Regions from separate parts of the Homo sapiens genome. Here regions 2, 3 and 4 are each reported to be linked to region 1. The links are microRNA targets in miRTarBase. Many come from high-throughput screens and were not tested one by one. Region 1 holds a microRNA gene; each other region holds the end of a gene's coding sequence.

Evidence for each region. Region 1 holds the annotated microRNA hsa-miR-605-3p (AGAAGGCACUAUGAGAUUUAGA, at 860-881, opposite strand). A microRNA usually pairs through its seed, bases 2 to 8, with sites in the 3' UTR of a target mRNA and lowers its output. Matches are read on the target gene's strand: a 7mer-m8 pairs with bases 2 to 8, a 7mer-A1 pairs with bases 2 to 7 and ends in A, and an 8mer does both.
Region 2: miRTarBase lists NUP205 as a target of hsa-miR-605-3p. The part of its 3' UTR that is shown has no 7-base or 8-base seed match.
Region 3: miRTarBase lists AKIRIN1 as a target of hsa-miR-605-3p. Seed matches in the 3' UTR shown: 8mer at 774-781 and 7mer-m8 at 2,340-2,346.
Region 4: the mRNA of CBFA2T2 is a reported target of hsa-miR-605-3p. Seed matches in the 3' UTR shown: 7mer-m8 at 1,643-1,649.

The regions. Positions count from the first base shown.
Region 1 is chr10:51,297,321-51,300,503 of GRCh38, reverse strand. MIR605 (microRNA 605) reads right to left here and starts at 931; the gene lies at 849-931. The region is part of intron 2 of PRKG1 (protein kinase cGMP-dependent 1); the gene reads right to left.
Region 2 is chr7:135,648,119-135,651,301 of GRCh38, forward strand. It overlaps NUP205 (nucleoporin 205), which reads left to right. Exons shown (of 43, transcript NM_015135.3): 43 at 286-635. The coding sequence ends at 438. It also overlaps the pseudogene LOC124901801. Among named protein-coding and RNA genes, the nearest start is that of STMP1, 13 kb to the right of the region's middle.
Region 3 is chr1:39,003,556-39,006,738 of GRCh38, forward strand. AKIRIN1 (akirin 1) reads left to right here. Exons shown (of 5, transcript NM_024595.3): 5 at 490-2,504. The coding sequence ends at 500. Among named protein-coding and RNA genes, the nearest start is that of AKIRIN1, 14 kb to the left of the region's middle.
Region 4 is chr20:33,644,447-33,647,629 of GRCh38, forward strand. CBFA2T2 (CBFA2/RUNX1 partner transcriptional co-repressor 2) reads left to right here. Exons shown (of 11, transcript NM_001032999.3): 11 at 1-3,183. The coding sequence ends at 200. Among named protein-coding and RNA genes, the nearest start is that of C20orf144, 16 kb to the right of the region's middle.

The DNA of each region.
Region 1 (3,183 bases):
ATAATATTTAAATCGGAACTCAGCATCCCAGCAAAGAGCTTCTTAATCAAAACAAAAGAGAAAAAATCATTAAATACAGTAACCCACTGAGATTCACATGAAGGTATGTCCCACAACTTTCATAAATCCCGAATTTATGATACCACTATAATATACTATTACTCCACAAGAAGTAGATGTGAATAACACCCAAGGATTACTGTGTATGATACAGAAAACCAAAGAGAAGAAAAGCTGCATGGAGAGCAGCTGCTCTGACTGTGTGTGCAGTGCCTCATTCACCAACACACAATTCAAATTCAAGCCTCAGCAAAATAACTTGTCGTAAGCCATGATCCTCTATAAGGTCATCTTCAAATAGACGAAATAGTGACATTTAATTCATAAAGACAAGGTTCTACTCTCTTGCTGAGCAAGTAATCCAATCAACTGTGGTTTAGTTTCATCAACTTTGGAGAAAAGGCAATTTTCTTTCAAGATTTGACACCCTTCATACCCTCTGCCTATAATTCCAGATGGTAGGTGTAGGTGGTAGAAATGTTAGGTTGAGCAGAATGATAGTACCTAAAGAAGAATGAATAGTACCAGGAAATGCATGACTCATGGCATTCTAATTTTCTTGAAGTTCTTTTGTACATTTGCATCAAGATTTTCCACAAAATTCAATCCTGACTTTAATTGTAAATTAAAGAGTCCTTTATTGAATTTCTATTATTGCAGAGCAGTTACGCCACATGAGGTATAATAGAAGCTTATAATGTCATTGAGAGGCCAGGAAAAAACACATGTGCAGAGAGCAATATACCTGTGGCTGTCAGCCTGTAACATAGGTAACCTGTATCTGCAGTCCTAACTTGATTCTAAATCTCATAGTGCCTTCTCTGTTTTTCCCAAGGAGAAGGCACCATGGGATTTAGAACCAAGCTAGGGCTAGAGACATATGTTACAGGCTGTGAAAGTTCTACCAAAGTTCCTACTTTAAAGAATGAGCAAAAAGAGGCGGGGCATGGTGGCTCACACCTGCAATCTCAGCACTCTGGGAGGCCGAGGTGGGTGGATCACCTGAGATCAGGAGTTCAAGACCAGCCTGGCCAACATGGTGAAACCCCATCTCTACTAAAATTACAAAACTTAGCCAGGCATGGTGGAGGATGCCTGTAATCCTACCTATTCAGGAGGCTGAGGAAGGAGAATTGCTTGAACCCAGGAGGCGGAGGTTGCAGTGAGCCGAGATCGTACCACTGCACTCTAGCCTGGGTAACACAGTGAGACTCCATCTCAAAAAACATATAAAAATAAATACAGATAAAAAGAATGGGCAAAAAGAGATACTGGCTAAAGTCTTAAGCAATAAATTCATCAAAGGCAAAAAGACAGGTAAGTGTGTGTGGCTTTAAGGAACCATTAACTGAACCATTTTATTGGAGCAAAGGGCTCATTTAAAGGCATGAGTGAAAATGACAGATGGAGTAATGGTCATATTCCTTTCATTATTACACTTTAGACAACAAACCTTTGTGCTCCATTGCACTTAAATACCAGGAAAACACTTACCAAAGAACAATATTAACACATTTATGCAACCATATGATCTTTGCATACAGATCACAGCAATCAAGCTTCCAACCTTTTGTTGCATGCCTACTATGTGCCAGGAATTGTCCTAGCACTTCCCTTCCAATTCCCTATCCTATTTAATCGCTTCACATTCTACCACTCACACAAATTGTAGATTTATTTTACTCTCAGCCCACATAAAATACTCCAACCTAACAATTTTTAATTCTATCGGCATGATATTCTTTCATCCATCTAATGTTTCTACCTTAGATCAGAACCATTTCATATTTCAATTCCTACATTACCCCCTAGACTCCAGGCTTATAGTTTTATAAAATAAGATTGTAAAATAAAAACCCATCTTCTCCCTTCCTCCAGAAAAGGAGAGAAGTAAGTGTGTAATAGCTAACATTTATAATGATTTTACTATGCTGAGTGCTTTCTACATAAAGCTGTTTCATTTAATGGCTCAGCAACACTGTTGAAAAAGGAAGAACCTGGAGTATGGAAAGACTGAACAACTCCCACCAGGTTCATGTAATCAGTAATTGGTGGAGCTGGAATTTTTAATCAGGTCCAACTCAGAACCTAAATCTTTTAAGATCACAAGCTTAGTCATAATATTCAATTCAGTGCCTTTTCTTTGCCTATAAAATAAACCACATTTTTTGAAGTAGTGGCAATGTAACTCTTGAATTAGATTGTGTGGGTTCAGATTTCAAATGTATCATTTGCCACCTGTGCAAATTTGGACATCATAATTAATATCCCTAATCATGAATTTATCATCTATAAAATGGATAATATTAGTTTCTTTACACACCATTGTTATAAGGTTAGGAGATAATTCATGTAAAATGTATACAGGGCCTAATATAGTAAGTGCTTAACAAGAACTGATGAAGGAATAATGGTTAGGTACATAAATGAATGAGTGAATGAATTTCCTTTACATACATCTCTTTATATAAATATATCACTTATAGTAACAAGTGTAGGTAAGGACACCTACTCTATCCCTCATTGTTAGGGTTAAGAACTGCTTGCATTATTTTTTAGGAAAAGCCATTAAATGCCTTATACTAAAGAGAAAATAATGGGAGGCATTATCGTAATCATTATCATCATGATTTCATCAAAACTGATGAAAACCTATTACATGTAAGATATCAAGGTTAAAAAAGAGACATATGGCAAAGATGCCATCTTAAAACCTACATAGTAATGCAGTATGTGTAGATTGATCAGTGAATAATTAGATTGTACAACTGCAGTGGAACAAAAGTTCTACCATTCCTGTTGCTCATACATAGAAATGCACATGAGTCACCTACAAGCTTCCTGATTTGCTTTTGCTTTCTCCCCAGCTATTACCCAAACCTAAAAGTATGATTTTTACAAGTTAATAATTTTCTTTTAAGAGGTGTTGTCAAAGTTTCCTCTCAATCCTAATTTAAGGTAAGTATAAAATTATAATATGAAAATCCAAGAATTCACGTTTTAAAAGGAAAAAAGATAAACCAGTAGCAAAGAGCTGGTAACAGATGGCGACTTAGCAGTTAAAGCAGCATTTTTATTATATTCCAGATAGTAAAGTTTTTCTATGACTCTACTGTTCAAATG
Region 2 (3,183 bases), not on the chromosome of region 1:
GTTAGTATATCAGCATCAGCATCAACATTCATTGCTATTTAAAGCAGGTTTTTAAATTTATACAAGAAAAGAAAGCAGGAAAAACATGAGAATTAAACCAAAAAATTCTAAGGTAGAAAATGTGAATGTTTAGTTAATTTAGTAACACATTACAAAAATTCAAAAGTATTTACATTGAAAGAACCACATTACAAAAATTCTAAAGTGTTTTAAATTGGAAGACTTAGAATAAAAGAAATATTTGAGACAACAATTTTAACAAAATGTCTTTTGTGTCACCGCTAGCTTCAGGCTGATGCAATCAACGCTTTTGGAGAATCACTACAAAAGAAACTTCTGGACATTGAAGGATTATATTCAAAAGTTCGATCTCGATATAGTTTCATACAGGCTCTTGTCAGACGTATCCGTGGCCTCTTGAGGATATCAAGGAACTGAGAGCCCGTGCTTATGCTCTTCTATGAGAGAGATGAATTGGGGAGAATTGTCTCCATTTTATAGATTAGTTTCTTTCTAAATTATGACCAAAAATATTTTGCTATTTCTTTCTTTGTATATGGACATCTTTTCTGTAAACTTCTTCCCCTAGTTCCATCCTCACTAGTAAAAAATAAATACTTTTTAAAAAAACAAAACAAATGTATGGTTAATCTTTTGATCTTTTATCTTTTGATCAGCATTATCAGGAATCTAACAAATAAACCTTCAACAGTGGTGATTTTCCCATAGAGATATTATTCTGAATGCCAGATTAAAGGCATAGTCTGAAAATTCTAATTTTTTCACCCTTTGTAGCTACATTACACTATTAACAATATTCAGGGTTACTAAAATATAGCCATGCTCTTATAGAATAGTGTACTCAATACTGTGAAAATGTCTGAAAAAGTCAAGCTTTTTCCTAAAATTATTTAGGTTTTCCTTTTTTTTGTTTTTTTCTTTTCTGCACGTAAGTTGACAATACAATTGTCCCTTGGTATCTGGTGATTACTGGTTCTAGGGCTCCCACGGATACCAAAACCTATGTTTTGGCATGCATGTTCCTTATATAAAATGGCATTGTGTTTGCATATAATATAGATACATCTTCTTGTATACTTTAAATCATTTCTAGATTACTTACAATACCTAATATAATATGAATTCTATATAAATAGTGGTTAATACTACGTTTTTAAATTTGTATTATTTTTTGCTGTTACACTGGTTTTTTCCCCCCCAAATATTTGTGATCTGTGGTTGGTTGAATCTGCAGATTTTGAACGTGGGGATATGGAGAGCTGACTCTACAGTAATTTGTGTTTGTTCCTTAGAAATGATTGTGAAATTTCTCAAATTAATCATCTGCCAATATTTCTCATATAATTAATATGATGGCTATCACTAGGACAAAACATTTACATGATCACCACTCTATTTCTTACCCAGTTGTTTTCATGTTCAAGTAACTACATCATCCGAAACTGCAAATTTCCTTTTCCAGACAGCAATTACTTCAGCCTAATACATAGGAGAGACTGCTGAGAGGAAGTCTTTGCTTTCATTTAGTAACAGAATAAACGCTATAACACTATAGAATAAAATTGATAATTATTCTATAGTGTCATAGTGTTTTTTTGTTTTGTTTTGTTTTTTGTTTTGTTTTTGAGAAAGAGTCTTGCTCTGTCACCAGGCTGGAGTACAGTGGCATGATCTCGATTCAGCACAACCTCTGCCTTCCAGGTTCAAGCGATTCTTCTGCCTCAGCCTCCCGAGTAGCTGGGACTCCAGGTGTGCGCCACCACACCCAGCTAATTTTTGTATTTTTAGTAGACACGGGGTTTCACCATGTTGGCCAGGATGGTCTCAATCTCCTGACCTTGTGATTCGCTCACCTTGGCCTCCCAAAGTGCTGGGATTACAGGCGTGAGTCTCCGCGCCCAGCCTAGTGTTGTTGTTGTTGTTTTTAAATGCTTACAATAAAACTTCTATGGCTTCCAAGCGTTGGTTTTTGGGTTTTGTGGTTTTTTTTTTTTTTTTTTTTTTGGTGATAGGGTCTTACTCTGTCACCCAGGCTGGAGTGCAGTGGCATGATCGTGGCTCACTGCAACCTCCACCTCCCGGACTCAAGTGACTTTCCTGCCTGCGCCTCCCGAGTAGCTAGATTACAGGCGTGTGCTACCATGCCCAGCTAATGTATTTTTAGTAGAGACGGGGTTTCACCATGTTGGCCAGGCTGGTCTCAAACTCCTGGCCTCAAGGGATCTGCCTGCCTCAGCCTCCCAAAGTGCTGGGATTACAGGCATGAGCCACTGCATCTGGCCTTCAAGCATCTTTAAAACATCTTTATCTTAGAGGAAGTTATGCTGTCAGGTTTAAAAAAAGAAAAATATAAAGGCTTTGTCAGTGTTATATTTTGTAATTAATTTACCGCCCACCAGATATAAACATTAGCTGGAAAACATTCTGTTAATAAATAAAAGTCCTGGATGTGAAAGAATAAATAAATGGATCCAAAATGTAGTTACAGTGCATAGTGCTCCACTGGTCAGGCATATGGTTATCTCTGTCATCTGGAGCACAGGTATGAACCTAGAAATGATTAGCAAAGAGCCTAGGCGTGAAATCAAAGCATTTTATAAACTTCTGAAGTATGAAGCCTTCTTAACAGACAAGACATATAGCTAAATTTTGAACTGGGATTTTAGGAGTGAGGAGGTGGTTCTTGCCTGTGTTTTATGTGAGTGAGAGCAAGTGAGTGTGTGTGTGTAGGCAGGGGAACTCTGCTTCTTGTCAGTGACTTCCTCAGATTCCTCTATCCCTCCGCCTCCCCGACTACTGCTGCTGCAGTGGCTGCTCCCTGGGTTGTAGGAAGTGAGTGATAATGATGACGTCGGGGTGGAGAGTGACAAGCAACAACAGAGATTTCAATCTGCGGCTGACGAATGGGCCCATCATAATGCACTGGAATGAAATCGTAGGGACCACATCAAAGGCAGCCTCCAGTTTGTGGGACGCAGTCCCAACACTCCAAGGAGAGAAGGCCATAGAGTATATCCAGCATATGCGAAGGGAAAAACCACACGCCACTGAGATATTGATGACCTCAGCGGCAGAATGCTCTTCTGAAGGAGGAAGTCCGTGCACCGAAGGGGAGGTCAAGTGCCCAGCCACAGGCCAACTATCCCTCCTCAGACAGCATCC
Region 3 (3,183 bases), not on the chromosome of region 1:
CCAAAGCTTATATAAGCCTCACAGTGACCCTATGAGGGAGTACTATTATTAGCTCCATTTTACTGGTAAAGATAGCATTTAAAGAGGTTAAATAATTTGCCCAAGCTTATACAGCTAGTGGTTCAGCTAGGATTAAAATCTAGGTAGTCTGACTTGAGCACCAATTTGTTACCTGTCTTTTCTCCAGAAAGATAGTTTCAGTTGTTAATTTATGAAAGTTGATTCCTTAAGTTAGTTTATCAAGTGTGGTCAGGATTTCTTATTCTAAATAATTTGCAACTACCAGATATTCAAAGCATAAAATATTAACAGTTGTATATCTAACTGAATTTCAGTCAGGTTCCTTAAATTCTTGATCTTTAGTATCTTTTAAGTGGTGAGTCATCGTTCATGCTATTTCTCACATTTACTGTTAGTGAAAATTTTTAAAGCATGACACTACAGTTTTTAGTATTCTTACCCTTTTTGTTTTTTATTCTTAATTTACAGATGTGTCATGAAGCTTTGTCACATATCTGGGTACCAGGTTTGACCTCAAGAGATGGCTGCTGTACACTTTTTGCAACTGGTTTGATGTCACATTTCAGCTCCAACTTTGCATCCTGAGAACACTTAAACGTTTCTGCAGGTCCATTTTATACAACTTGAAAGACCGTAAAACTTTCTGGTTGCCACAAGCATATCTTTCTTTTCTGCTCATCCAATAAACAGCTGTGCCCTACTGTGATAGATTTTCCAAACAAAAATACCTGGAGCAGCAGTTTAGCAAAATATGCCTTCAGTGGCATTCAACAAATGGAGTTTCCCCAAGCACAGTTCTGTAAGAAGTGCGTGTGAGAGTGTGTGTATATGTGTGTATGTGTATTTTAAGTTATTATTTGTATTGTGCAAAAATTTTTTTTTGATCTTGGGGATTCTGGCTGTGAATTTGGTGCACGACAATTATGGTAAAAAAACATTTGCTTGGTCTAAAGAAGATCATTAATGTTTTGTGACCATACAAGTTGTAACAGTGGATTGTTTTTATGTGTAGGTATTGTTAAATACAGGGACTGTTTCCAGGCACAGAATATGAATCGTAAGTTAGGATGGACATTAGATGTGATTATGATGATAAAGCGAAGGTCTGCGGTCCTATATCTACAGACACGTGGTGAGAAATTAGAACAAACTGGAGACGGGCCATTGACACATGGACTCTGCCTGGGCATGTTAGGTTAATTCTTTGACTCCAAGCCTTAAAATACTCACATGGAGTCAGCGCTCACCTCATTCACACAATTATCATAGAGCTCCCTGGACACTGAACCTCTAAAGGGAAAAGGTCTACCCTGGAGCCAGGAGCATCAGGGTTGGCTTGGGAGCATGAGAGGTGAGCCCAGGGCTAGGCCTGGGCCAGGCCCCGGCAGCACTGCTACTTGGGAGGAGCCACTTCACCTTTGTATTAGTTATTAAAAAATATAATTTGGGCTGGGCGCAGTGGCTCACGCCTGTAATCCCAGCACTTTGGGAGTCCGAGGCATGCGGATCACTTGAGGTCAGGAGTTCGAGACCACCCTGGCCAATATGGTGAAACCCCATCTCTACTAAAAATACAACAAAGTTAGCCGGGCGTGGTGGCAGGCGTCTGTAATCCCAGCTGCTTGGGAGGCTGAGGCAGGAGAATCACTTGAACCCTGGAGGTGGCGGTTGCAGTGAGCACAGATCATGCCACTGCACTCCAGCCTGGGCAACAAAACGAGACTTCGTCTCAAAAAAAAAAAAAAAACATAGAATTTGGATCCTTTGGTCGGGTTCTCCCAAATTCTTTTGAGGTGTCCATGGTCAACTGCTTCAGCTTTGTTTTGGCAACCCCCTGCCCGAAGTCGCATATAGGCTGTTCTTCACCTTGTTTCCAAGGCTGAGGAACAGAAAGTAGCCTCTGTTTTGAGGAGGTGGAAGTTAAGTATACATTTATTTTTTACTGTGACTTGTTCAGGACCACATTTTACAAAATGCCTTGTTTCCTTCATTGTTTCTGGAAAGGAAAGTTCTATTAATATTGTTTTACTTTGAATATAGAATAGTTTTTTTAATTAGGGCTTATTTTGAAAAATTCTGAGTTTAATTCAAATGTATGCCAATACCTTCCAAAGTAAGGTAATATTCAGAGACAGTTGTTGTGATCAGATGGCTTAGAGAAATTTCTGGAATATTCACATTCGAAGATTCCTTATTAATGAATGTCTTTGACTTAAATCTAACCAAAAACTGCAACATTATTCTTTGTACATTTTCATTATATAGTGTTAACAAGCTTAGTTGCAAACAAATAAAATACTTAAGCTATTTGTTTACCTTGCCTTCTTAATACTGTGATAATGTTTATTAATTCAAATAACTTATGTGAGAGCTGCTATAACCATTTCCCCAGTTCAACATTGCATTGAAAATTTATGGACCTTTAAAAAAAAAAGCCCAACAGTGATTTTTTTTTAATAATTAAAGAATGATTTTACTTTGTATTTGAAGGGTGATTTGTTTCATCTCTTCTTTTTTCAGGGTAGTCACTTGTTCCTAAAAGAGGAACATAGCAGTGGCTGTAATGGGAATGGCTCTGCAGTGGGCTAGTCACACCAAAATAAAGAAAGGGCAGCTGTGGGAGCCATCAGAAGCTGTGGAGGCTGGACTGGTAATGGGGAATGCTGCCCCACTGAAGTCTTGTTTTAGAGATCAGTGTGATGTGCTCACTTAACTATAAAGTGTCAGTCCCCATTCCAACTAAGTGGCTCCTGGCTGGGAAGTAGAGTAGGTTTCTCTAAGGAAAATGACACCTGCTCACCACCCGCCCCACTATACCACATTGTTGTTAGGCTATCATATAATGATAAGGTAGCCCTCTGAGGCCACAAGGTAAGACCAAACCACCAGGGCTGGGTTTTGGGATCCCCTCTAAAGAGACCACACATGTTTGTTTAGTGTTTATAATCTAGAGAAAAGACAACTGGGACAGAAAATGGGGACCTGGAAGGTAGGTCTCAGACTGGTGAATGAATTTTTCCCTAGACCTTGATTTCCAGAGCTTGAATTTAAGGGCACTCCCAGGTAGAGAAATGTCTTTGTCCCATGGAAATTATAGACCAAGGAAGACGTCAACCTATAAAAACGTATAAGGGTTTCTCAGGAACAGTGTTTTCAGAATAT
Region 4 (3,183 bases), not on the chromosome of region 1:
ACCACCGCCTCTGTGGTCAGAACCTGCATGGCCAGAGCCCCCACGGCCAGGGCCGGCCGCTGCTTCCTGTAGGCAGGGGCTCCTCTGCCAGGTCCGCCGACTGCAGCGTGCCCAGCCCAGCCCTCGACAAGACCTCGGCAACCACATCGCGTTCCTCAACACCTGCTTCTGTGACAGCTATCGACACCAACGGACTCTGAGCCCCGGACTCTGCTTACCCTGATGGCTGCTCAGCACCACAGAGTGCTTGGGCTGAGGGACTGACTGTTGGAACCCGTGCATGTAGCTGCCGGGTCATCAGCAAGAAATGAATTGGAGGCAGGAAGAGTCCAAGCCTGAATAATAACACCCCACAGCCTCTCTGTGCACTTGCTGTCTGCGGAGCCAGTGTGCCATTCTCTGCACATGGGCAGCCAGCCTGAGCTGCCTCCTCCATGGCTTTCCTGGTTTGTTCCTCTCTCCACTGAAGCTGACTTAGCCGGCCCCTTTTCAGTGTAGACCACCAGCTCCCCTCCCCATCTCCTTGAGTCAGCAGACTGTCCAATGTGCTCAGCCAGGCTGGAGGCGGCAGGCGGCAGGCAGCAGGCTGTGGAGGAGGCCCCTCGGTCAGGGAGCGGCCTGCCTCACCCCTGAATAGCTCCTTCGGCCCCATCTCCATCCTCAGCAGATGACACTGATTGGCCTCACGGGGACTTGGGTAAGCAACAGGCGGCATTCAGGACTCTTCTCAACCCTGCTGTTCAGACTTGATAAGATCTCAGAGTCCACAGGAAAGAAGTCACTGTTGCAATAAAAGCACCCGTAGTAGCAAAAACATAAAACAAATAAAACTTCCCCCACATCACAGATGATTTTGGACAAGATTTTCCAACCTTGCTGGCTACTTTAGTTTGGGACCTGTTTTTTTTCTCATTTGATTTTGCTTGTGCAGAAAATAGTTTCCAGCACATGGATTGATCTGAGAGAGAATGAGGCTCAGTTGTGGATAGTCTGTTTTCTCTGAGCATGTTGGCCAACTAGTATCGTCAAATTATTGAGTGGATCATCTCTTGGAAATGCAGAACTTCTGCCACCACTTGGCTATTTGCACAGTCATCTTGTTCTGTGTCCTTTTATCTCTCAGACCACACACATCTGGAACGCTGTGGGCATCTTCTGCCCATGGGCTCCATTTGGCACCTGCTGAGCCACAGTTGTCCTGCTGGATGTGCTGTGCAGGTTGGTAGGACTTGCCCCCACTGTCAAGGCCTGGTCTCATCTGAAAAGCCCTCCTGGACCTCAAAGAATTCTTCAGACCTCATAGTTACAGGTCATTATATCTACTATGTTGATTTATCATCAGGCACACAACTTCTGTTTCCTTCTCTTGTGTTATCTGATAGCGTCCCTCCTTGAGCTCATCAGAAAGGTTTTATGAAATGTGAACCATTTTGGGAAAAGCTGATCAATTTTTCTTCCTAGCTTCCCATTTTCAAATGGGACATCACTCATATCCCTTTCAGAATGTTAGGAACTGCCTCCCACATTCTTCCCTGTCTTTTTGGGTTTTGTTTTTTGTTGTTGTGGTGGTTTTTTAACACAAAGTCTCACTCTGTTGCCCAGGCTGGAGTGCAGTGGCATGATCTTGGCTCACTGCAACCTCTGCCTTCCAGGTTCAAGCAATTCTCCTGCCTCAGCCTCCCGAGTAGCTGAGATTACAGGCGCCCACCACCACGCCCAGCTAATTTTTGTATTTTTAGTAGAGACAGGGTTTCACCATGTTGGCCAGGCTGATCTCGAACTCCTGACCTCAGGTGACCTGCCTTGGCCTCCCAAAGTGCAGGGATTACAAGCGTGAGCCACCATGCCCGGCCTGTCTTTTTGGTTTTGATGGGAGTCTGAGGACCCCGACCCCTCCTGCTCTCCATCTTTGAGCCTCTGGCATCCTCTCACACCCAGAAATCAGTTGGAGTAAGTTTAATTGGCCCTGCTCCAGCTGGCCTTTGAAGCACAAGTTTAAATCTCCACCTTCTGTGCACTGACCAGAGTCTAAAATAAAAGTTGTCAGTACCATAAAGGAAAAGGGATCCACACAGGTAGCCTTCTCCTTGGATACAGGTACATCTTACTGTAAGAATTTCAAGTCCTGGCTGGGCGCAGTGGCTCACTCCTGTAATCCCAGCACTTTGAGAGACCGAGGCAGGCAGATCACTTGAGGTCAGGAATTCAAGACCAACCTGGCCAACATGGTGAAACCCTGTCTCTAATAAAAAAAAAATAGAAAAATCAGCCGGGTGTGGTGGCACACACCTGTAATCCTAGCTACTCAGGAGGCTGAGGCAAGAGAATCTCTTGAACCTGTGAGCCAGAGGTTGCAGTGAGCCGAGATTCCACCACTGCACTCCAGCCTGGGCAACAGAGCAAAACTCTGTCTCAAAAAAAAAAAAAAAAAGGCAAAATTAAAGAATTTCAAGTCCCTAATTTACTCTAACCAAGCATTTTCAGTCTTACAAAGAAATCTAGTGCACGACACCTTTAAAATGCCTAGATTTCCATTGCCTAAAGTAAGGTGTGACCAGTGAAACAACAGCAGAGAATCATGTTCCTTTGCTGTGGAACACATAAGCCCCACAGTTTTCCAGTCAGCCTAATACATGGGTATCCCCCGACCCCATCTGCCTCCTTAAGCCACAGTCCTTGGTGGGGAACTCTAAGGGGGACGGAGTCAGTACCCCGGACAGGGCCACATTTGCATGAGACATGGCTGTCTCACAGGTCACAGAGCCATTACAACAGCTTACTAGTTTTTCATGGATTTGTTGGATTAACACCTTAAGCAGGTTTTTTATTGTTATTTTGTTTGTTTGTTTGTTTTGAGACGGGAGTTTCTCTCTTGTCTCCCAGGCTGGAGTGCAATCGCGCAATCTCGGCTCACGGTAACCTCTGCCTCCCAGGTTCAAGCGAGTCTCCTGCCTCAGCCTTCTGAGTAGCTGGGATTACAGGCATGCGCCACCACGCCCAACTAATTTTGTATTTTTAGTAGAGACGGGGTTTCTCCTTGTTGGTCAGGCTGGTCTCAAACCCCGGACCTCAGGTGATCCCCCCACCTTGGCCTCCCAAAGTGCCAGGATTACAGGCATGAGCCACTGTGTCCGGTCTTGAGCAGGTTTTTAAAATCTCCAGTGGCCATAAAACTAGCCAGGG